4 separate regions of the Homo sapiens genome follow, and all the other regions are linked to region 4. Evidence: fine-mapped expression QTL. A gene starts in region 4. Each other region holds a variant in brackets. All regions are shown on one strand. Distances are from middle to middle.

Region 1 (7,918 bases), 350 kb before region 4:
AAGAGTTAGATGATTTAAGCTCAGATCCAGTCCATACAGTTTGCCAGATGGGTGACCTTGGGTAAATCCTGTGGCCATCTTTCAATCTCATTTTCTCATCTGTAAAATTATCTGACCACCTCGAACATGGGAATATAACAAGAAACAATAAAAGCACTTCCCTGCTTCATCAAATCTTACAAAATGGAAAAAGAAGATATATATGTCCATATTAATGCTTGAAAACAAGACAGAATGTCATTTATTGTGACAGAGAGTATAAGGAATTCCTGAGAATAGAAGCTGGTAGACTTGTACTGATGAAGCAGAAGTCTTCATCAAGAGGAACCACAAACTGAAACATGTTCAAGAGGAGAGAGCTCTTCCAGAAATTCCTGAGATAACTCAAATTGAGAGAAATACATACCAAGAGCAGGCCAAACACATTCAACAATTATCAAAGGAAGAAATTAAAGAACTTACCCTTCCTCTGCCTACACTATGTACCATGAAACAGTAGTATTTTCTCTCTACTTAGACATTAAGGTAATACTATCTTTAAAAAAAAATAGTGGACAGTATATTTGGAGAGGGTACCTAAAACGGGTGTTGATTCTAGACAGCATAGCCCAGCCTGAAGATAGAAGGGCGGTAGCCAATTCAGCATACTCTGAGCACTAATCCCTGAAATGGGGTCCAGATATAAGAACCCCACTGAGCAGGCCTTAAGAATGTGGCCCAGGTAATTTACTAGCGGAAATAGAAGTCCCTATGTGCAGAACAGAATCTTGTCCTGCACTCTGCTTCTCTTCTTCTGTAACAACTTAAGCAAAGGCATGGTATTGAAAATAAAATCTACATCCACTAACAGTGATCCAGATGAATCAAAGACAAGATAAAATTATAACTCAACCTAACAAGAAATGAAGGAAATCAACTACATGAGAGATAGATACAAAATTTATTAAGGAGAAAATCCATCTTCTATGGGGGAAAACAATAATGGGAAAGAGAAATATCCAAGAAGCTATCACATTTATAAAAATGTTTAAAGCAATATTTAGTGCATTTATTTCATACTGCTGAGCACAAAATGACCACAAATTTAGAATGTTAAAACAACATATATTTGTTATCACATGTTCCCCATGAGTCAGGAGTCCAGGTACAGCTCAGCTGGACCCTTTGCTCAAGACTTCACAAGGTGCATTCAAGGTGTCTCCTAGGTTTAGATTTTTTTTTTTTTTTTTTTTTTTTTTTTTAGATAGAGTCTCGCATCATCACCCAGGGTGGAGTGCAGTGCCGCTATCTCGGCTCATCGCAACCTCCACCTCCCGGGTTCAAGAAATTCCCTTGCCTCAGCCTCCCGAGTAGCTGGGATTACAGGCACATACCACTGTGCCGGGCTAATTTTTGTATTTTTGGTAGAGATAAGGGATTTCACCATTGTGGCCAGGCTGGTCTTGAACTCCTGACCTCAAGTGATCTGCCTGCCTCGGCCTCCCAAAGTGCTGAGACTACAGGTGTGAGTCACCGCACCTGGCCTGCATCTTATCTGGAGCTCAGGATTCTCTTTTCAAACTCACATTATTGGTGGCAGAATTTATTTCATTGTACCCAAGGCAGATTTCCTCTTCAAGGACAGCTTGGAGAGAGTCTTTGCCCTCTTGATCCTGTTTTAAAGAGCTCACCTGATTAGGTCATGCCCACCCAGGAAAATCTTCTTTTGATTAACTTAAAGTTAATTGATTAGGGGACTTAATTACATCTGCAAAATTCCTTCATCTTTACTCTATAATGTAACAATCATGGAGTCATATCCCATCATCTTTGCAATATTCAGTTACAGGCAAGTTATGTTTCTACCCATACTCAAGGGAGCAGATTATACAACATGTAGGTCATTAGGGGTTATAGAATTTTGTCTGTCACAATAAGAAATATGGAACATGTAAAATATCAAAATAAAAAGTAAAAACTCAAAAGCTGAATTGTTTAATAGATATCTGGAGACTGAATTTAGATCATCATTGAAATATAAATTACATACATCAAGATACACAGATTATAAAGAATACATCTTAGCAATACATACCCCAACCAAAGTTTTCTAGTGCCTCTTCTTAGACAGTCCTAACCATTTCTCCAGCAAAACCTTTTCTGATTTCTATTACCATAAATTACTTTTGCCAGCTTTATAATAAAGGTTTGGAAAGTGAAAAATCTTGCCTTGTTCATAACCTTATTGAGAAAGGGTCCAATATTTTAACATCAAATACAATGCTATCTGTAGGTTTTCCATAGATGCCCTTTATCACGAATTCCTAGTTTGTTGGGGCTTTAAGTCATAAATCGGCAAATATTATTAAATGTTTTTTCTGCATCTGTTGAGATAAGATTTTTAAAAATCTTAATAAATTGCAGTAATTTTTTAATGTTTCACTTGATATTATTATCTATTCTTTTTTAAAAATTTTTTCAAGAGACAGCATCTTTTCTTGCTGTTGCCCATGCTGGAGTGCAGTGGCACAATCATTGCTCACTGCAGCCTTGTCTTACTGGTCTTAAGTGATCCTCCTTTCTTGGCCTCCTAAACTGCTGAGATTATTGGTGTGAGCCACTGTGTCCAGACTATTTTTTTAATATATTGATGGATTTAATTAGTATTCTAAGGGACATTAGGCTACAGATTTTCTTTAATTGTAATGTCTGTCTGGCTTTGGTATTAGAGTTTTGTTGGCCTAATAAGATGAAATAAGAACATTTTTCTCATCTATTTCCTGAAAAATAAGTTTATGTAGAATTTGTGGTTTTTCTTTCTTAAAGGTTTCAGTTCACCATTAAATAATAGGGATTTATTTATAGGGGGTAATTATAAATTCAACTTTCTGAACAGATATAGGGCTAGTATGATTTTCTATTTCTTTTCGTGTCAGTGTTCTTAATTTGTATTTTTCTAGGAATGTGTCCATTTCATCTAAATTGACAAATCACATGAAATTATTCATATTTCCTTGTTATTTTTTACTATCTAAAAGATTCATATTCACACATCCTCATCTATTTCTAGTAATTATCAGTCTAGCTAAGGGTTTATCAATTTTATTGATTTGTTCAAATATTCAAATATTAGTTTTGTTTAATTTGATTTGAACAAATTTGATTTGTTCAAATGTTCAAATATTAGTTTTTCTCTATTTCTCCATTTTTCTGTTTTATTGTTCTCTAGTATTACCTTTATTATTTCAATATTCTACATACTTTGGGTTAATTTGCTTTCATTTATTCTATATACTTTGGGTTAATTTGCTTTGGGATGAGGATTAATTGGCAAAGAGCAAGTTTATGAAAAGTTCTACATTTTGGTGGGCATGTGGATAAATGAATGCGTGAATTTGTCAAAACTCATCAAATTACATACTTAAGATTTTTGTATTCCACTGTATGTGAATTATCCCTTGATAGAACTGAAAACAAATATTAAACTCTCACTGGTAAGTTTAGGTTTTGCAGTTATTCACAATTCTAAAACTGCTTTCCATGTATTCTAGACCTGAGCAAATGAATATTTATATTAAAGATAATTTAAGCCAGGGTTTTTACCACTAGAGAAGAAAGTCACAAATGTGGAAAACAGCAAAACCCTGTAGAGTTAGTTTGGAACTGGAAGTACAATGTCTTTAACTGACTTCCAAATGTTTCCAAAAATAATATACTCTGTGTGTGTGTGTGTGTATGTGTGTGTCTAGAGAAAGAGAGAGAGAAGGAGCAATAGAGACATAATAAAGAAAAATATAAACAACTGGTAAAGAATATACAAGAGCTCCTTAACCTATTCTTGCTCTTTTTCCTGAAATAAATTTTGATATCATATAAAACTTTAAAAGTTACCAAAAGTAAGTTCTGCTATACAAGTGAATATTGACCTATTTAATCATTTAACAGGGAGGTGCACTCTTAGCTGGAGACAGGATGAGGAGACTGGCACTGATTCCTGCCTTAGGTAGGCATGGCAGTTTTCTGGGATGAAAAGGTAAAGAACAGAAGCACAGGGAACATTCTCTGGAAAGAAAACTGTTACGATATGTTTGTTCTTGAGGGACTCAAAATAGAAAATCCCTTTTCCTTTAAG[A/G]ACACTTGCTGGAGGGGGTTGGGGGAGAGATAAAATTAAACATTGGCACAATGGTGCTGGAAGCCACTTTAGGAATAACTTCTATAACCTTTTTAGTAATTTTCCATGCTCCGGACAAAAAATTTTCTGTAACGTTCAGTTCTAAAAACAAATTGTCCTTTTTCTAAGAACTATGCAACATGCTCATTTCCACCTTTTTCCTTTCCTAATTTTAGAACAAAGCAAGCTGTTATTAGGTTGTCTTTTTGTATTTATCATGTAAAAAACTGCTGAAGGCTTTCTTGAAAACTGAAATAAAAGAAATGTGGTATATTGTTTTCTTTTTCATTTTCCTTTTTCTTTTTTTGGTATGTGCATGTAAAGGTAAACATTTCAAATTGCCACAATATAATTTAATTCCTCTCAAAGTCTGACAACGCCTTAATAACAACACATTATTCAAGGGCCTGTTTAAGGTTCCTGCCTCCATTTAACTTTTCATCTAAGTATTTATCTATTGTACTTTATCCCAGATCCTATGATAATAAAAAATACACATCACTTTGCTTCTGATCTGTTAGGAACATGCTTCTTTCTATAAAGCCAGGAAAAGAGATTTTCTATTTTCACCTCCAGTCTGACACTCAAGACTCCAGACCCTATTCGGTACGACTGTCACTTCTGGTAAAGTACACTTGAACAAAGATTTAAAGCCAAATACTTTTTTAAATTATGTAGATTTCTGTTGGAGGAATAGACTTCTTATTCCTAAAAAATATATAGAAAGCATGAATATTAATTCAGAGATGAGTATGTTCTATTTCTAATAGGGCATGTTTTTGGTACTACCAGATGTTAGCATATTCTTAATTCAAATCATCAGGTTCAGTTACATCACCAGGAAGGGCTGCTGTATTCTTCCTGTATTTGAGCTATTAATAAAATATGTTCTTAATTTTAAAAATTGCTTGGCTTGGGTGTGGGGCATTACTGTGGGGAGTTGAAAATACAGGAAAGCAAAGCAACATATTTGGACCACTGAGGTTTTCTAAGAAACACACTAAAATAAATTTCATATAATGTTAGAGCCATTTTCCCTTTAAACTCTATGTTGTCTGTGATACAATACTGATTTAAATCTACTCATTAATCCTGATAGTGGCATTTTAATTAAAGGTATATAACAGGTTAATAAACCCAACATCATTTTAAATCCCTGAAAGAAAAAGAGAAGTGTGTGTGTGTTCATGTGTGTGTGCACGCATGCATGTGTGCATGTGTGCACAATATGAAAACTGTCAAATTCTTTTCTGCAATCCAAAGCCTCTCTATTCATGACTTGAAATGAAGGGAATGCACCCTATGGGAAGCATTCACCCAACCTGTGCACAAATGTTTTGGCTGTGAAGTAGTGGAGACATATGGAAATCATTTTCCTTACATAAAACATGGCTGAGATAAAACATGGCTGAGATAAGTCACACCTAAACAAAGGTTTCCAGGATCTTCAAGAGCCAGAGTAGTTCAGAGTAAAGGTATAGCCCTACTACTCTACTTCTTCAATGTCAGTGATCCAAAGAAAATGAGAAACTTATTTTTTCACTCTTAAAAATCAACTTATTATGAAAGATTATTATTTACTTAAGTTATTTTTAATTATGCATACTATTGCTATATGGTACCATTTTATTTTACTGATTTTAAATAGAGGTAAAGGTTATATTTCACATTAAGGATACTAGAAGCCAATTTTACCTAAGTTATAGCCGAGAAGAAATATATTTTTTAAATTACATGGAAAAAACCTCTAAGGCAGAGAGGGCAAATAGGTTTCATGCTGAAAGCCACTTTTAATCAATTGGTAGTGAATACATGAAACATGGATTGAAAAGGAATCTAAAGTGGTGACCAGCCTTCAAGGGAATGAGAACCATTATTGATTAATGATGTCTGCCTTGGGCACTAGACTGGAAAGTTGCAGCACTTCTCTTGTGTATTTACCAAACCTAAGCATGGTGAAATGTTGTCAGCTTTTAAGTACATATTCAAAAATTATGACTTAAAAGAAATAGTTACATGCTTATAGACTATTGGTGAGAATATTAATTAGGTCAGCTACTGTGGGAAGCAGTTTGGAGATTTCTCAAAGAACTCAGAACTACCTTTCAACACAGCAATCCCATTACTGGATATATATCCAAAAGAAAATAAATTGTTCTGCCAAAAAGACGCACGCACTTGTATGTTCATCACAACACTACTCACAATAGCAAAGACATGAAATCAACCTAGGTGCCCATCAAAGGCAGATTTGATAAATAAAATATGGTGTATGTACACATGGAATACTACACAGACATAAAAAAGAACAAAATCATGTCCTTTGTAGCAACATGTATGCAGCTGGAAGCCATTACTGAGTGAGTTAATGCAGAAACAGAAAACCAAATTTCTCATATTCTCACTTATAAATGGGAAGCTAAACATTGAGTACCCATGGGCATAAAGATAGCAACAACAGACACTGAGGACTATTAGAGGGGAGGAAGAGAAAGGAGCAAGGGTTGAAAAACTAACTCTTGGGTACTATGCTCACTATCTGGGTGACAGGATCATTCATATCCCAAACCTCAGCATCATGCAGTATACCCACGTAACAAAGCTGCATATGTACCCCTGGAATCTAAAATAAAAGTTGAAATTATGAAAAATAAAAAAAAGTTACAGATATTCTAATAAAGAAATATGAATTTATAAAAATAAAATAAAATAAGCATGAGATCAAAATGAGACAAGTACATAGGCGAAACCATACAACTGATGTGTGTGCTATGGAAGCATCACAGACTTAGCCCTTGATTTTTTATCTGCCAACTGAAGGGAAAATCTAGGGTACATAATTCATTGCATCCCTAAGATAAAAAAGAATCATTTTCCAGGTGGCTTACACACATTCTTGATATGAAGATTGTCCAAGGATTTTACTCTAATAAATCATAAAGATAAAAGAATGCCACATAGTCAAGAATACCCTTAACAAAAATGTAACAATGAACTTAATAGGCCTGTTTTGATCATGACTTTTCATATAACTTGATAGCATGCCACTAAAATAGAATTTAAGAACAGCAATTTTGCAAGAGACCAACCAAATGTGCTTTCTACTGATCTGGTTAAGTTATAATTTTAATATCTAAATCCAGAAATCTTTGAATATTGATTTAGTATGTAGGTAACTACTGAGTGGCTACAAGCTTAAGACTATTCACTAGCAAGTATTTGGAATGCATTACTTTCTGTTGCCAGGCATAGATAAATCTGCATGCGTTGACAGTCAACCTGATTAAAATAAGGGTGAATTTCAGTCTGGCTTTTGAAGCCCATGGCTGCAGCTAAGAGGCCAGCATTCTTCCTTCCCACTAGCAGGGCTACGACATTCAACTTCTACCTTCTCTGTAAAACACGAAGTGTATGACATGTCCCAGTTTTTCTTTTGTTTTATTTTCAATTCACTCCTACATCCAATGGAACTTTACTTTTCAAAACAACAGAATATAATAATTTGACATTACGGAAATGTATTATTAAGAAGTTTAGTTGCATCAGGAGAGTCACCCAATCAAGGAAGTTAACAAAAGCATTTGTGAATCCAGGTCGCTTCTCTCTCTAGCCTAGAGCTTTTGAGTTTGGGTTTATGAATCCTCATAGGCCAATTAGCTTAGCTGGTTAGAGCCTGGTGCTAATGATGCTAAGGTCAGAGAGTTGGTCCTCTGGGAGTCAGTGCACTTTGAGTAGAAAAAAATAGCACAAAATCATTTCCACAGCCAT
Region 2 (5,000 bases), 71 kb before region 4:
GCAGGGTTGTTAGCTCCAGATTGGCCAAAATACCATTTATAGTAGTTAGGAAACAAAATAATAATAGTCATAATGATAACTAAAACTAATATATATATATATATATATATATATATATATATATATATATTTTTTTTTTTTTTTTTTGAGACAGAGTTTTGCTATTGTCACCCAGGCTGGAATGTAATGGTGCGATCTCGCCTCTCTGCAACCTCTGCCTCCTGGGTTCAAGTGATTCTCCAGCCTCAGCCTCCCAAGCAGCTGGGATTATAGGCACCACCCACCATGCCAGCTAATTTTTGTATTTTTAGTAGAGACGGGGTTTCACCATGTTGACCAGGCTAGTCTCGAACTCCTGACCTCAGGTGATCCGTCCACCTCAGCCTCCCAAAGTGCTGGGATTACAGGCGTGAGCCACCGCTCCCGGCCAAAGCTAAAATATATGAAATGGCATCATCCTATGCGATGTACATAGCACATAAACAACATGAGGCTGTTTAATACCAACAACCATTAGGAGGCACTGTTATTAACTCCATTCTCCAGGTGAGGAAACAGACTGAAGAGACTCAACAGCCACCCAGCTACACAACAGGCTGGGAAACAAACTCAAAATCTGTGGAAGGTGTCTGACCTGAGCCATGAGGCTAGCCCTCCAAGCACAGATTCACCTAATGGAAATTCATGGGCCCAGTGCTCCCCATTCCGATCAAGGTCACAGCCATTGTAGGGTCTGTGAAGGCCCAAGTGTACATGAAAGGAATGGTAACACCTAGGAACACTGTCCATATAAAGTGTGAGAAAATATTTCTTCACTCCTGCTCTTCATACCAAGCTTCCCAGCCTCATCCATTCATTAACCCAGCATTTATTAAATGCAATCATTAAACAAGCATTTATTAGGATTGGGGCCTAAGTCTTATGAACACAAAACTATGAGTAGAGAAGGAAGAGGTGTAATGACAACCTAAGCAATGATCTCAGTGCACACTGAGCTGTCCTTTACAGACTGAAACCACATTCCCAAACCCTGCCGTCTACCTGTTTCTCCTGCCAGTTGTCAAGCTTCCCTGAGTCCTCAGTGCAATGGCAAAGCCACTAATAAATTCCAATCTCAGCTCTAATTACACTGTCAGACAACCTCTGAACACTCAATCTCTTCTCCACCAAGTAGTCTGTAGGCAGCTGTGCACACTGAAGGCAACCAGAAGCAGTGGGAAAGACCCTTTCTTTTTACAAGCATTTCCCCTGCTATGATTGAGAAAGGATGAATGTTTGATCTCAAGTGCCCCCTGAATGATTATCCCAGGAGAAGACCTGGCAGTGCCTTGCTAGGTGGTAATGAAAGCTGTTGGCATCACAGGAATGAGAGACAAGCATACAACTTACGGGTGCAGGGCATAGAGGCAGCATCGTTGTCAGCTCTGAAAAAGCCTCGGTCACAGGTGCACGAGGTGGCTCCTTCCCAGACAGAGTAGCTGTGGGGTGGGCACTTGGCACAGGTGGCATCCGTGGAGAGAGCCTTGTAATATCCAATTTTGCAAGCTGCAGGGAAGAAGAAAAAAACAAACAAATAGAAACCACTGCAAATAGACCAAAGCAAAAATGCAAAGCCACCTCCTTGTTTCAGAAGAAGGGAGACGTTCTTGCTAATCATTAGCGATCATGTGGCTTGAAATGCAGGTCATGCAACCAAAAGCATTCATTGAGTATAGTCGCTCTTTAAGGGCCATTAACATTCCTGGTCAGGTGTCAAGAAGTCCAAAGGAAGAAATTTTCTTAAACCTGGCAGAATCAAGGAAAAGCACAGCAAAGTTTACCGAACGCCTTTCTATGTGCCAGATACCCTTTATACACATTATGCTGCTTAATTCTTACAGCACCCCTTTTCGACAGGCATTATCTCTACCTTAGAAGTGAGGAATTTCAGCTTTGAGCAGTTAATTGAGGGCACAAGACCATACATCTGCTAAGTGTCAGCACCCAGCTTTGACCCCAAGTGTTCTGCCCTCAAAGCCTGTATGCTTAGTCACATGCTATGGAATTTCAGAGTGTAGCCTTTAGCCAACCAGTGGGAAGTGTATCCAAGTGCTGACAAAAAAACCGG[G/A]TGGTGATTATTTCCCAATTACAACTACAGAAAGAACCAAATCGAAAGATCAACAAAGGCAAGCAAGTAAAAAAGACGAGCTTGTAAGGCACGGGTCACAGTTTCAGGGTGAAATAACAAAAACTATCAACTGGAGATTTTGGAATATAGTATGCTAAGATTTGTTTTTTGATCAGCGAATATTTTGTGTCTATTTTCAAGTTCATAAAACCCTCCTGTTTTTCCCTCTTTCCATTTTTCCAGCACCCTTCCCCTGCAATGCACACACCTCCCGAGAGCCTGGTGTAGAGAACACGGGCCATATAGTTTTTTATACACCTGACATCCTTTCCATGACTTCATCTTCATAAACATCACACTGACACTGTCATCATACTGACACTAAGGACCACTTTTAGTAGTGTGGAAAAACTCACTAATTCTGGGAAAACTCATAATAAAAAATAATGACTACTTGCTCCCCACTCTTTTTCCTTCCCCCATGGCCTTTCATGATCGCCTCTCAAATCTGTCTCAACCCCAGATAAAAATTGACCAACACCATCAGCATTAAACCCACAGAGACAAGGCCATTAAGAGTAAAGTTATTTCATAACACCAGAGGTTCAAAGAAAATGTGCCAGTAACCCACAATCTTTCCAGCATGATTCACTCTCGTTTCTTTTCATTCATCATGTCCTTAGGACTTGTCTATACTATCAGAAACAGCAGTGGGGAGAAGGACCTATCAGCCATTTTCCATCAGCCTGGCAGCCAAAACGGAACAACCATGCAGCAACGCAGCAGATCTTACTGAAATGAGTACTAGAAAGAGATCCATGAAACTGCTTGATTCTCTCTGGAGATAGGGCCATCATCTCACTGTCACTACTCATCCATCAAGCATCTGTATGGCTTCCAGCTGAAGTCTGTTCCACCCACTCGCATATCCTGTTGGCATTTTCTTAATCATACTCTTGTAATGGCAAGCGGAAAGGGAATTTAGCAGGGGCTCAGGAAGGCACACAGTTACTTCACTCTTACTAACTGAAGTTGTTTATGGAATTTCCTTTAACAAGCCAAAACTTTATGACGTGTGGAGCACTGACAATAAAAGTGCTGGGAGATCAATCTCTCCCTTATTTGCTTTCGTCTTTCACTGGACCGGAGCATCTTAGAAAAACAAGTTGCTCCAATGACTGAGATTTATGTGTCTCAAGTTTATACACATTGCATAATTAGATAAGGTTCAACTTGCAAGGTGCTTTTTTGGTCATGCTTAAGATGGCCCTAGGGTTTTGATTAAAATCAGAAACCCTGACTTTAGCAGGAAGAAGGACTGGGGGTCAAGCCCAGCTTTCTCACATCAAACACAATGAGCCTCTGAACAGGAACACAAACCCACTGGGTCCCGCCTGTCACTCAGTCAGTCGCAGTCGACAAAAGCAACTTGTGGCAACTCAGGACTGCAAAGAAGGCACAAAATGCTTTCATTTTTTTCACATCTGAATGTTTGCAGAAAACTGCATATTACTGACTGATTCTCATGCACCCCTCAATTTCAACAAGCATCAAAAACGAAAAACTCACAGTGGGAGTGGAAGATCGACAAGGACAAGAAACTGTCCAGTGACTGATCATCACAAAGTCCAAATGGCATATTTGAAAAGCTATTCTGATAAGACTACTTCCAGCTAAAAAATTAAACTCATCTTTTGCAAAAATCAAAATGGAAAATGTTGCCTTCAATTTCATTAAATTTCTTACAGTGCAAAAACCTGTTTTATATATTATGTGAATTTAAGAAAAAAGTGCATTTGCAAGTTTACATTTTTTCCTATTTTTCCTCGAAGCTGGTATTAATATGTCACCAGGAATAAATATATGTGAATTCATTTGGGAAATACCAATTTTATACCAGTTTGGAAAATTGAAGGCTGCTGTTCTTTAAACAGACACTCTTTTCCTTTTGCTTTTATAAAACACAGGCAGAAAATACAAAATTGTCATTGTGCTATTCTCGGCAGCCTTGCTACCCTTAACACCTTCTTTTGTCTCCAACTACATTAAGACCATGTTATTAATATTTCAGGATTCTTAGAAAGGCTCTCTCAAAATATAGTAGTGGCTTTTCACGCACATAGCCATTTTGCTGCCTACATTTAAAATGACCTAGTAAATTGATGGTTTAGTACATTTCTTTGCTCTATGTGGTGCACAGCCTTCCAGCATTTGGTACATAAATGTGTAAGTACATTCTGCATTTATTCACTACTTACTAGCATCTGAAAACTTTCACTATCTCTTTTATTCTAAACAAAACCCCTGTGAAAGATGTACTTGGCATAACAAGCATTGACTGTTAGTATTTTTTATCCTTCTATTTTAGGTGAGAACTGCTATGCTGTATTTTTGAATACTAATGACTTTGTGAGCAAGAAACTACTTCCTCCTGCCCTATTTCCACCGAAGTTTCACTAGTTAATGAACCATCTGAATGGGTGTCTTACTTGATCTTCTAGATATGCCATGGAGAAAAGATTAGTTCACACGTATGATGCAAACTTTGCATTCAATTCCTTTAGCTTTGCTTTAATTATCTCTTTCTGCTGGCTTTGAATAAAAAAAGATGGAGGAGGAGAAGGAGGAGGAGGAAAAAGAAGAACCAACTCTTCTTTCATTGGCTCACCCACTACCATAACAAAGTCGAATTTTAAGATAGTCTTGGTAACGTAGTATCTTCTGGATTTTTGATGCATTGATGTGTGTACGTGACAGTATAATGCCCAATTTAATGAGCTGATTACACCTACTATTTGAAAATTTTATATATATATATATATATATATATGGCTATGTCATTTTTCTGCTTTTTAAGAAATGTAGAATAATTGATAGTATCTGATTGTCTTTA
Region 3 (5,000 bases), 79 kb before region 4:
GAGTTTCTATTAAAGGTTCTTTTTCTAGGTGGAAGATCATAGGAATAGGGCGAGGGGCAATTATATCTCTATAGCAGAATCTCTCATAAATCTAAATGTTGATAGCAAAGAAGATACCCTGGGCTGAGTGTGGTGGCTCGTTTCTGTAATCCTAGCACCCTGGGAGGCTGAGGTGGGAGAACTGCTTGAGCTGGGAGGTGGAAGTTGCAGTGAGCTGAGATTGCACCACTGGGAGACAGAGTGAGACTCTGTCTTAAAAAAAGAAAAAAAGAAGATACCCCGTTCTCACCCCAGGGGATCTCAGAAAAATGTGTAATTAACCTTGTTTCATAGAAGCATGCTGTGAATAACCACTGTATGACTTCCATGCATAGTGTCAAAAATGGCATCCAGAAATGACAGGACTCGGTCAATGACAAGCCACTCTTAATTATTCAGGGTGGTAGAAAAATTGTAATAACCTGGCTAAATGGCATTGGCAGATTATTCAAGCCTTCCACTTGGGCATATATTAGTGTCCCTCGAATCTTTGCATTTTCCAGTGGAATCCATAATGGGCTGTTTATGACTATAAAATGGGGAGTATGTGGGGAAAAAAAAGAGGAAGCTAAAACAGCATTTTTTTAAAAAGAATTCAGTGAGATGATACCTGATCTTTATGAAATATCATGAGGCTCTTAAAATTTTGCAAACAACCAAATGGCAAATGATCAGTCTGGGGTCTATCTAGTGCCTTCGTTGAAGCTCACCTGGTGATCTTTCTCCCTTTATCTTTAATTTTCTTCAAACAAAAACCATCCACTTGGTTGTCTAGAGGTACTTTTTCCTTTTAGTAGCTAAAATGCTGAAAGGCAATCCGAAAGGAAGAAACAAAAATGTGGTATACTCACTAGCTAACATCAGATGTTGAACTACTAAGCTCTAACTGAAGCAGCAGCATACGTTGACGGCTGCATCTGAATCGTCCAAATGTCTTTGGTTGCTTTGATCAGTTTGTACAGTCCATGGGACAGACACATTAGCTGGCTTACCAACTAACAGGCAGCAGGACCATATGTTCTGAACTAAAAACCAACTATGTAATCTGGCAGTGGAGGAGTTGGTGTCTCAATCTGAGTTTTTGTCCTATGACAAATGGAATGCAGTATGAAACTATACTATTACATTGCAAATTTGATAAATGACATGGAATGAGAAATTCCCCTGGAAAACTTGGATTTGAGATTTTTCATAAAAATATGTTCACGAAAATGATTGATTGCATGAATGATAAAATGGCTAGAGATCAACCAATGAATCTTCTGAAACACTTTCATTTACGACACTTTGGGAATCTTTGGCCTTTGTTCTCACTTTTCTAACTAGTCTTTCACTAGAGCTAACTGCACCCTCACTGACCTATTTCACAGAATGTATGCCTCCCCCATCATTATATGATTAGTTACTTGCAGCTCTAAAGCAAAAAGAAATATGCTTTCGGGTAGATAAAAAAATATATAGTTTACTTGAAACTGAAGGCTGCATTTTATCCTATGGTTTATACATCAAAGCCTCGCTCTAGACATCCCTCCCCAAATCCCTTAGCCAGACTGCTAAGCATGTAAATCTTTGGGGTAGAGAATTGAACAGAATAACAGGGGCACCTTCAAGAGCTTGTTTGAAAATGGATGTGAGATTCCCAAAATTAAAGCCCTTAAAAAAATAAAAAATAAAAAAATAAAAAAGGAAAAGAGTCCCTCCCTTCTCCTGACCTTGGAAACAAGTAAGGACGATGTTATTTTAATTTGCATTCAAATTTTCACAACACAGTCACACAGCACCGGTCGAATCGACATTGGGTTTCCACCGAAGATTGCTCATCATTTCATTATGGCTCATTATGTTGATAACTGTCAGAAAGCATTAGCAGCGAGGGCTTTGAGTAATAGAACTGAAATGGTAATTTTAAAACAATACACTTTCTGGGAGGAAATACAGCAGCGCACTAAATTCAATTAGAAAAGGCAAATGTAGAGACAAAGTAAGTGATGTTTGTTGTTTGGAACTTGGCTGTTTCAATTTCTTGATAACGTAAACCTGGAGAAAGTTTTTTCAAATCAGGACCTCTGGTCATAGATCTTAGGAAATCTGCCCTCATTAGCTCTGAGCTCTCCTAGTATAAAATGTCTTGAAAGCTGCAATTTTGGAATATTTTCGGCCACGTCTAAGTATCAATCAATCACTCTTTGTTTGTTTGGCACATTCGAGGCTGTTTACTTGGAGACAGATTCGTAAAGGCCCTTCAAGTTGGCAATCTAAAATAATAATCTCTCATTTACAGAGTGTTCCCAATCACCAGGCTCTAAGAAGTTTCATCAAACAAGTTAAATAAAGAGCACCCAAAAGCACAGGGACAGATTTCCAATTGAAAAATACGAAAAACTACTCTGGTAACAGTGCTCAGAAGTCAAGGTGGCAAAATGACAGATGAGCTACATTTTTCTAGATATGCAAAGCCAATTTACTACCTTTACAAGGTACTTTTCTAGCACATTTTGAAATACAATAAGGGGTTGGAAAAGAAAGTTACCTTAA[T/C]GCCGGGTGCAGTGACTCACGCCTGTAATCCCAGCACTCTGGGAGGCCTAGGCGGGCGGATCGCTTGAGGTCAGGAGTTCGAGACCAGCCTGGTCAACATAGCGAAACCCAGGCTCTACTAAAAATACAAAAATATTAGCTGGGCATGGTGGTGCATGTCTGTAAATCCCAGCTACTTGGGAGGCTGAGGCAGGAGAATTGTTTTAACTCGGGAGGTGGCAGTTACAGTGAGCTGAGATAGCGCCACTGTACTCCAGCCTGGGCAACACAGTGAGACTCTATCTCAAAAAAGGGAAAACAAAAAAAGAAAGTTACTTTAAATATAACATTGATTTAGCTTCCCAGTGGGGGAAAAGAAGATCTTGCTCACTACAATCATTGAACAAGCAAGTACATGACTAAGACCATCAGAAGTCTTCCTGCAGGGGTGTGAGGTTGACCACGCCCAGTCCTGCTGATAACCAGACTGCATTCCAGAAGGGGCAGGGAAACAAGGAGAAACAGATCTGGAGAAGGGAAAGAGCTAGTCATTCGTAGAGTTAAAGGACTTTAATTTCATTAATAAAAATCACATCAAAATCCCTGTTAAGAAAAGATTCATAAAATCAAAATCCTGACATCAGCTTTAATGGCAGCCCTGAATGTGCAGAAATAATGGTGCTTGTCCTGGCAATGTTGCCAAAAAAAAAAAAAAAAAAAAAAACTTCTTGCCTCTCTTGACTGATACAGGTGTCTAAGGTGAACATTTACATTTCTACTCTCTGGCAATAACTTGGTGAGGATTCTGGAAGAAACAAACAAACAACAGCAAAATTAAAAAGAAAAATAATTCCACAGTGAGTGCATTTGGTTGTATGATTCTACCCAGGCTGGATTTTCTTCATACAGGAGACAGATGAAGTATTCCATTTCCATGAAGGGAGAATGATCAGAATCCATGAAATACCTTTCTAGAGTCACCACTGAGCTGAAGAACAGGTCTGAAAGTTACAGGCATCAAAACAGAATCTCCTGTCTCCTGACAGCCGTGGGGCTGGGAATCTAAATCCTTGCTGCCTAAAGACGGTTTTACAGATCAGTAGCTTCAGCCTCACCTGGGAACTTGTCAGAAACAGACTCTCAGGCCTAACCTCGCTCCTCCTAATCCGCAGGTGATTTCCATGTGATTTTTGTGCATGTGGATGTTTAAAAAGCTCTGTTCTAAACTCCCTGTTCTAAATAGTTATGGGCTATTTTCCAGAAAATGTTCCGATGGTGCTTCCATAGAAACATCTCAGCACATCTCACAGGCAGCCATTTATGTTAACCTAACCAGAGGCTCCAGCAAAAGTATTCCCAAAGGTAAAGTTTGTTTACGATTAAATTCTCTTAAGCTCTCCAGCAGCGTCAATGGTGCAAACTTCCTAGGCAGTTTCCTTCTAAATTAGCCAATGCTACTTTTATTCACCTGGTCTAATTGTTCTCCAAGTGAACAAAAACCTGATTTTACAAGCCAGTGGAGCACAGTCTCTCTTTGGCTAGAAGAATGAGGCTCAGATAGTGTGTTTTATTTCTTCATTAGTGTGCCGTCACAGTGAGCGATCACTAAATGCGAGGCTGCATAAGAATGCTGGGGTTAAAGACAGCATAATGAACAAAGAAGGTGCCTGATTATCATGGCTGTCAGCACAAGGGAATTGGGTTTGTCACCTGGCTTAACCAACTGGGAAGAACTGATTAGAGGCTGGAATCAGTTTGAAAGGACCCCTGATGTTTATGCTGCTTCCCATCCCCACATCTTGTCAAGAGAATCCGATAAAGCTGGGGGCAGCGTGCGAGTGGGGAGAGTTACTCTGTGGATCATCTGAACAAGAGGTTCTTTGAGAAACTCCTACTGTCTTCTCTGTTGGAACGTCTACTACAGTATTGTCCAATAGAACTTTCTGTGGTGATAGAAACGTTCTCTGGGTCTGCCGTCCGGTATAGTCTCCACTAGCCATATATGGCTATTGAGCACTCAAAATGTGCCAAGTTTAAATAAGAACCTAAATTTCAATTTAATGACTTTAAGGTTAAATAGCCACGTGTCAAGTGTCTACAGTACTAGACAATACAGGTCCATTATATTCACTAGGAAGGGAGATGTCGAAAGGAAGAGCCATAGGCTAAGAATTAGAATCCAGTTCTGCTGCCTGACTTACGACTATATCTATTATCAGCAAAGTATAGTCACTTCCCTGATTATCCCTATCTCAGAGGAAGTCTTCAGAGGCTTATGCAGTTAATGTTTAAGTTTAAAAAAATACTTACAAGTTTAGTTCTGTTGGCCGGGTGTGGTGGCTCATGCCTGTAATCCCAGCACTTTGGGAGGCCGAGGTGGGTGGATCACCTGAGGTCCGGAATTCAAGACCAGCCTGGCCAACATGGTGAAACCCTATCTCTACTAA
Region 4 (7,383 bases):
CAAAGGAACCACTGGGTTATTAATTTGATCAGCCAGGCTGGCTCTTCAGGCTGGGGGAGGGGTGGGAATGGGAAGCCGCCATCCGTGCTCATGCGCACCCCAACACTCAAGCTTACCCCCAGACCCCTGGATTCTGCCCACTTTCCCTCTCATTTCACCTCAAAGTCAATGGAGTTAAAAATCAGTCTCTTTCCCCTACTTTTCCCGGGGAGTCTGAATTCCTGGGGTCTGTTAATGATTTTAAAATGTAGAGCCTTCCCTGGGTCGCTCCCGCCTGGAGTTCCCGCCCCCTTCCCTCCTCTCCTCTCCCCACCGCCAACCCCCACCGCAACCATTCTCTTCTCTCTGTCCCTAGAGAAAAGCCCGCTACATCCATTTGGATTTATGTAAGGTGGATTAGGGACACAAAGGAAACAATAAGACCCAATTTACAAAAAAAGGAGGGAGTAGAAAGGGAGGGTAAAAGAGAGAAAAGGAAACGTGATGGGAATAGAAAGCAACAAAGTGAATTAATTTTTAAGGGGGAGGTGGGGGAGGGGAGGGGAACAGACCTCCCTCCCTCCCCTTCAACATTAGCCTAGGGCTCTCAGAGCCTTTTTGTCTTGGGCTCCCAAGTTTTTCTCCCCCCCCCCCAAAAAAAGAGGGGGTTTAAAAAAAAGAAAGAAAACAGTCTCTACATCTGGGGCGAGAGAGGTCTCAGGGGACGTCCTAACAAGTGTGTGAAGTGGCCAGGAGAACGCGGGATCCACGATTCCTCTCAGGGGAATGAATAACCCTAGGGACCGAGGGGCGGCGACGGCCGAGATGGCACCAGAACCACCAGAAGCCACGTCGGAAGGAGATGGGAGATCCAGAGGGCGAGAGAGGGCCCCTTTCCTCCCAAGCGATGTCTGTGGGCAGGTGTATAAATCTCTCAGAGCCTCCGTCTGGAGGGCTCCGGGTACCGGCTGCCCAGCCAAGGCTAAGTTGGTTTTTGGCTCCCTCCTTCGGAACAGAGAAAACGATAGATTACACAGGGATGGATGGACGGATGTCTGGAGAGATGGAAAGATGAATGGATGGATGGATGGGTGGATGGATGGATAGATGAATGGGTGGATGGATGGAGGGATGGATGGACGGACGGACGGACAGATATATGGATGGATGCATTATGGATGGATGCATGGACGGACGGACGGATGCACGGAGAGATGGATGGATGCATGGATGGATAGATAGACGGATGGACGGACGGATAGATAGATGGATGCCGGAAAGGAGAAGAATGAGAGACGGATGTGAGACTAGATGCACGCAGGCCAGAGCACCAGCATACGCTGGAACAGAGCACGAGCATACACTCGAACACACGCGCACACACTCAGGACATCTGCGCACAGACATACAATCCTCCGCGTCCGCTTCCACGCAGGCATTCGCGCACCTACATACACGCAGTTGCACGCGCGCGCACACACACAGGCACACACACGCAGACATGCACACACACGCAGACATGCACACACACCACACATGCAGACATGCACACACACGCAGACATGCACACACACACCACACATACACACACACACACACACAGTTCGCCTCTCCCTGGGTTTCTCAGAAACTAAATGATCACCGCCCCCCCGCCCCGCCCCACCTCCCGACACAGACACACAGGCACATACAATCCTCCCAGCACGTCCGAACGGATGCACAGAAAACTGAGCACCCAGACGGGTCCCGTCGACCCCGCACGTTAGCTCTAAACTGTGTGCAATTCTGGGGCGAAAAGCTAAAACTCGACTGCGTTCAACTTGCCGGCGGGTTCCCCAAGTCTGCGGGGCGAAGAGCTCGGGCCCCTCAGGCCCGCAATCGCACCCTCGGGGCGCTGGGCTTGGCGAGGAGAAAGGTGTCTGACTCCGGGTGCTAGAAATCAGGTCACTGGCGCCTGACGAGCGGCGCCACGACCGCTGCGCTGCGGAGCAGGCCCCGCAGCCCGGTCCCGAGAAGCGCAGGGCTCGGGAAACTTTGCAGAAACCAGAGCTCGAAAGGCTTTCGCTAGAATCCGGGAGCACCAAGCCTTCACTGTGCTCCAGGCTGCGTTTTCCCCTCGCCCCGGGCTGGCTCAGGAGAGGACGTGGTTCTTGTAATTTTTTTTTTAAATCCCGGCGTTGTCTCCCGTGCATCCCCTCAGGGCGCCTCGAGCGGGCCTCTCTGGCGGATGCTGATAAACTTTGGCCTTTGGTTACAAACTTGGACAGACCCGCCGCGTGCACGGGTCACCGCCTCGGGGCAGGCTGTCCGGCGGTTCCCCGCTGCCCCTTCGCCGATCCCCTCGCCTCAGCCCCCTTCTCCCGAATCGGGACGCACCATTCACACTGGGCTCCCCCCGCACCACCTGGCCCTGCGCTCCTGAGGACCCCTCACCCGCGATGGCCCCTCGCTGTCCCCGACCACAGAAAGGCCGTCCCGCTCTTACCTTCATTCGCGGGGTATACCCTGGAACCTGTGACAGCGTCGCAAATCCCGAAGAGACACGAAAATAGGGCGAAATAGAAAATCCCAGCCATGGTTCGCCGGTGCCAACGCTGCTCCTGCCGCTTCTATCCCAGTGGAATAAATGCTTAAGTTAGGAGAGCAGCGGGCTGAAGACATTGCCAAGGGGGCGGGCCCGGCCGGTGACGTGAGCCCGCCAGTCCGGGGCCCGCGGCCAATGGCGGCGCAGACAGGGCGGCCGAGCCCCGCCTTCACCGAGCAGGGCCCGCCCCAGGGTTCCGCCCCCTCCGGGCTCCACGGGGCGCGCGGTCTCCCGGGGCTCTAGGGGGCGAGCACGGCCGGTCCCCGCCCCCGCCTGCCGGAGGGAGCCAGCGGGATCCCCCACGTTACCTCGAAGGTCGAGCCCCTGGACGGCGGAGGGACTTTGGAAAAGCTCGGAATTGACCGAGGGGAGCCAGAGAAGAGGTTGGAAACCTTTTCTCCCACCACGGGCGGTTTAAGATGGAGGAAAACGCTCTTTTATTGAAATAAAAGAAGTCTAAGCTGACCTGCGGTTGCTTCTTTAGGAGAGTCGACGTGTCTGCGTCCAGCGCGCCCGGGCTGAGCTGCAGACTCGCGCCTGCCACCGCCACCCTCTGCCACCTTGCCCTGTTTTGTCTTTATGGCGCTTCCCCCTCTGAAATACTCTTTGCGGGGAGTTTTGTGGCTCTATCACTCGCTTCTTCCCTGGCTCCCCAGATGCCTGGAGAGCGGGGACCTACTTGGTCCCCAACGTCCAGTCCGCAGCAGGGCTCCGTCACTGTCTCCAGAGACTGAACGAATGACTTTCTAGCAGTAAGGAAGTCCCCGCTGGCCCCGTCCCCCTGCACACGCCGTGGACCTCGCCCAGGGCCCAGGACGCCCCGAGATGGCCTTGGGCAGGGAACCAGTTGTGGATTTCCCGGGGGCAGGGTTGGGGGCAGTCCCTGGAACCGGGCCTAGCCCGTCTGGGAGCGGTGGGGTAGAAGTGAAAGGCTTAAGTGTGGGTGCGGGGACTTGCAGCCGCACAGACAAGGCAGACCGGGACTGGGAAGCTGCCCGGAGCGGCTGCTGCGACTCTCCGCTCCGACCTAGCCGGGGCAGCCCTCCCTGCCCCGGGAGAAGACGGCGAGCAGGAGGACCCGCAGAGCCCCGCCCGGCTGCTCCGGCCCCGGGGGCACTGGCACCATCGGGCTGTGGTCTTTTCCCGATGCCCGAGCCGTGGACGCGGCCACCTAAGAGCGGTCCGGCGAAGGCAGCGCAGCCGGTGTCCCAGGGACCGGTCCCCAACGCCACTCGGTGCATTTCCCCAGGCGCTGGCAGGGGCACTGATTCCTAGCAATGAGGCCTCCCTTCCCCTTCCCAGGCCGCCCCTCCTCTGACTCCCTCCAGAGCAGGGCCGAGTTTTCCTGGGGAGCCTGGGTCCCGGCGGCCGGGCGGCCGCTGGGAGGTGGAGGAGCCTCTCCAGCCCCGGCCGCAGCTCATCGTGAGCCAACCGCGCCACCTGCCGGCCAGATGCGGGAGTGTGCGGCCCCGGAGGAAGGGCGAGCGGACAAAGACCGCAACCCGCAATCCGCAACCCCGCAGAGAGGTGGTGCGTGCGTTTGGGCGAGCTTTTCAGCCACCGCCAAGTCTCGTGCACTAGGGCTACTCCTACCGTGGGGCTGCGGACAGCGCTCAAGAGGTCCTGGAGTCTGTCGTGACTCTCGCCTGCTGGATTTCAAAAGATGGAATCGGAAAGCGTTTCAAGGAGAAACTCCTAACAAACCTTCCGGGGGTTGCCTGAGTGGCTGCTCTCGGAAAAGCGGATCCTAAATAAAGCGGGAGGGTTATAGGGCGACGTCGAGGAGAGGACAGGTCTCGAGTCACTGCTACAGTTTCAGGTCACTGGGCTCCGCAGCAGATCGTGTTTTCTCCCGTGGCTCGAGAGCTGCGCTGGTTTCTCATGCAAACTCAGAGCCGAGCTAATGACATGAGCAACTTTTACTTTTACACAAGATGAGCACGCGTGCCGAGGCGCTGGGCGGCGGCTGTGTGAGTTGGTGGCCCAGACGAACAGCTTGTGCGAGACTCTGGGCATTTCGGTTTCTAGATACAAGATTTGCTTAAATGTCACAGTCCAAAGAAGTGGATTTCAGTCATTGTAGCTACTGATTGCACACAAGTAAAAAGGGAAAAAATATGTACTCGGGGGATATATGTATGTGTGTGTGCGTGCATAAATTATTTAAAATAACTGCACTAAATCCCTTTAAGAAATGCATTTCTGGGTTCTTTCATGTGTCTTTCTGAGTTTTACAGAAAAAGAAGACGAATATTGGTCCCTGTCATTTGGCACACAGATTCAAAAGAGAAAAGAGCAATCCGAATTCTTTTTGAAACCTTTTTAAACAATAGATGCTGGCTGCCTCTCTGCAGGATCTTGAGTGTTGCATGTATCTATCTGTGTTTGAAACGGGAAACTGACTGCCTGCATTGTTATAAACAGTAAAATTTCTAAAACATGTACCATTTTTTTCCCCAGGATATGCACATTGAATATTAAACAAAGTCTTTCCAGACACAGCTGCCTGAAAGCAAGGCATCATTTGCTAGAGTACATTCACTGACTTTCCCTTTTTTCTTCCTATGTTTTAGTTCAGGACCCAAGGCAGCCCGATAATCAGGAGAACCAAGAAGCAGGAAATGCTAACTTGGAAAAACTGAACTATAACTTCCTCTTTAAATCATTTCTGGGTTGCAGAACAGAAATGAGCTGCTGAAAATTCCTCTGTCCATTGTGACTACCTAGAACAAAGGTGTTCTAACCTAGCAGATATGATTCCTTGAAGAGTAAGGCAAAATTTTAAAAATGATGGTGGACAAAGGCCACCATCAATGCAGAAAACCACCCACATTATGGGAAGACAACCTGGAGTTTTCAAATGTTGGAGACTGTTTACAACACATCAACGGAGTCATAAGGATACAATGGAATATCATACCTTTAAAAAAGTACCTAAAATCACCTAATTTTAAAATAAAATTGCTTTACTCTTGAGTAAGACAAGTCTTACTACAGTAAAAATTTGGGGTTATTTTGAATACACTAAGAAACATGTCAAAACATATCTGCTTACACACTTAATGAAAATAGTAATTGAATAATCTGAAAACAATGATATACTTTTTTTTATACAGTGCCTACCACAAACGTTTGAGCTACGAAGTACCTTGTAAATGCTGAATTGAATTAAGATTGAATTCCAAAGGTGTTTTTAATCCGTAAAAGACGTTTGTAAATAGCACCAAGCATCCCGGGGTTTCCACCTGTATGTGGAGGGCCAATTTCACCAAAGTAAAGAGAAAGGAGCCTTTGACCCGTAGACAAATAATGATAAGGAGGGTGTATGAAAGACTGGAGAGACAGAGAGAATAAGAAGATGAATCCACTCTGCTTTTTCTAGGCATCCTGGTGGATTTTTTGTGAAAAAAATGGAACCTGCCCATAGTGCTCCAATGACTCCCTGAGTTCTCTTTTAGAGAACCAGAACTTTCAATTCAGACAACCCCAATTTGATACTTTAGCTGGGCTTTTTCTAGCTGTGTGTCTTTAAGTTCCTTGACCTCTCTGAGATATGGTTTTCTCATCTACAAATTGTAGATAGTTAACATTATATGGTTCTTCTAAATACTGAATGAATGTTATAGAGCTTCTGGTATAGTACCTGGCGTGTGTTAGCCAGCTGTTATTACTCATTTTTATTTTTATTTTTATTTTATGAGACAGGGTCTCACTCAGGTCACCCAGGCTGGATTGCAGTGGTGTGATCATGGCTCACCACAGCCTCACCCTCCCCAGGCTCACGTGATACTCTCACCTCAGCCTCCTGGATACCTAGAACTACAGATGTGTGCCACCACACCTGGCTAATTTTTTGTATTTTTAGTAAAGATGGGGTTTCACCATGTTGCCCAGGCTGGTCTCAAAATCCTGGGCTCAAGCAATCCTCCTGCCTCATCCTCCTAAAATGCTGGGATTATAGTCATGAGCCACCATGCCTGGCTATTGTTTCTGTAAAATAATATTTAATTAATAAGCATTCACATTTTGAAATGAGAAATCATTTGTTCAGCTTGAATTGTTCCTTCCAGAAGGAAACCAAGCACTGTGATTTACCTTTCGTGCTCCATGAGAAAATAAGATGCTTTATTTTATTAACTCCTAGAGTAGGGAAGGGAAATAAATTCTAAATTCTTCTCTTCTTTTATTGTTGATTTATGACAGCTGACATCCAACTTTTATATTCCTAGGTAATTCCACTGGATTTGGACCTAGAGGCTATGCTTGTCTTCAAATAGAATAGTGTAAAAAATACGTGAAAGAAGGTGTGAGGAATCCAGAGTCCCACAACCAAGTGGTAATGAATAACCAAAGCTCTACCTAATGAAATTCCCACCGTTGTTAGAAAACGCTTCTACCACAAGCTACTGCATCTTAAATATACAAATTTGACACAACAATTGGTGGGCTTCCGGAAGCCCCCAGGAAACCTAACTGCAGAGTTCATCCTTTGATGTCAAGGCTTTGATGCTGTTTGTTATGCAAATAAGAAGCAGGACACTTATGAGCCCTTTACACCTGAGTGGGAAAAAAAATGGCTGCAGAGCTCAGGTCTTCATGCATCAAGAGGATGAGAGAGCAAGACAAAGCAAGAGGCCTTTTTTTGTTTGTTTGTTTCATTTTTTTAATAAGTTGTTGGGGTATAGGTGGTATTTAGCTACATGAGTAAGTTCTTCAGTGGAGATTTGTGAGATCGTGGTGCCCCCATCACCCGAGCAGTATACATTGCACCGTATTTGTTGTCTTTTATCCTTTGCCCCCTCCCATCTTCCCCCCAAGTC

Which allele goes with the higher level. Positions count from the first base shown, and alleles are read on the strand shown. Sizes are in standard deviations (SD) of each study's normalised expression. Not every link is listed here.
With allele G in place of A in region 2, the expression in fibroblasts of the gene that starts at base 2,611 in region 4 is lower (small effect, 0.24 SD a copy in GTEx).

What was found. PIP is the estimated chance that this variant, and not a neighbour inherited with it, causes the effect.
Region 1: its variant is the best candidate, but not a certain one, in a credible set for the expression of EPHA4 in tibial artery (GTEx, PIP 0.60).
Region 2: its variant is the best candidate, but not a certain one, in a credible set for the expression of EPHA4 in fibroblasts (GTEx, PIP 0.83).
Region 3: its variant is the best candidate, but not a certain one, in a credible set for the expression of EPHA4 in whole blood (TOPMed, PIP 0.77).

What each region holds. Positions count from the first base shown.
Region 1 is chr2:221,224,279-221,232,196 of GRCh38, forward strand. No RefSeq gene overlaps it. Among named protein-coding and RNA genes, the nearest start is that of EPHA4, 340 kb to the right of the region's middle. The variant A/G (reference allele first, on the strand shown) is at 4,112.
Region 2 is chr2:221,499,628-221,504,627 of GRCh38, forward strand. EPHA4 (EPH receptor A4) reads right to left here. Exons shown (of 18, transcript NM_004438.5): 4 at 1,390-1,545. Among named protein-coding and RNA genes, the nearest start is that of EPHA4, 70 kb to the right of the region's middle. The variant G/A (reference allele first, on the strand shown) is at 2,108.
Region 3 is chr2:221,491,748-221,496,747 of GRCh38, forward strand. The region is part of intron 4 of EPHA4 (EPH receptor A4); the gene reads right to left. Among named protein-coding and RNA genes, the nearest start is that of EPHA4, 78 kb to the right of the region's middle. The variant T/C (reference allele first, on the strand shown) is at 2,575.
Region 4 is chr2:221,569,694-221,577,076 of GRCh38, forward strand. EPHA4 (EPH receptor A4) reads right to left here and starts at 2,611. Exons shown (of 18, transcript NM_004438.5): 1 at 2,465-2,611. The coding sequence starts at 2,555. RefSeq lists silencers at 2,567-2,986, 3,587-3,866, 3,917-4,076 and an enhancer at 6,780-7,292.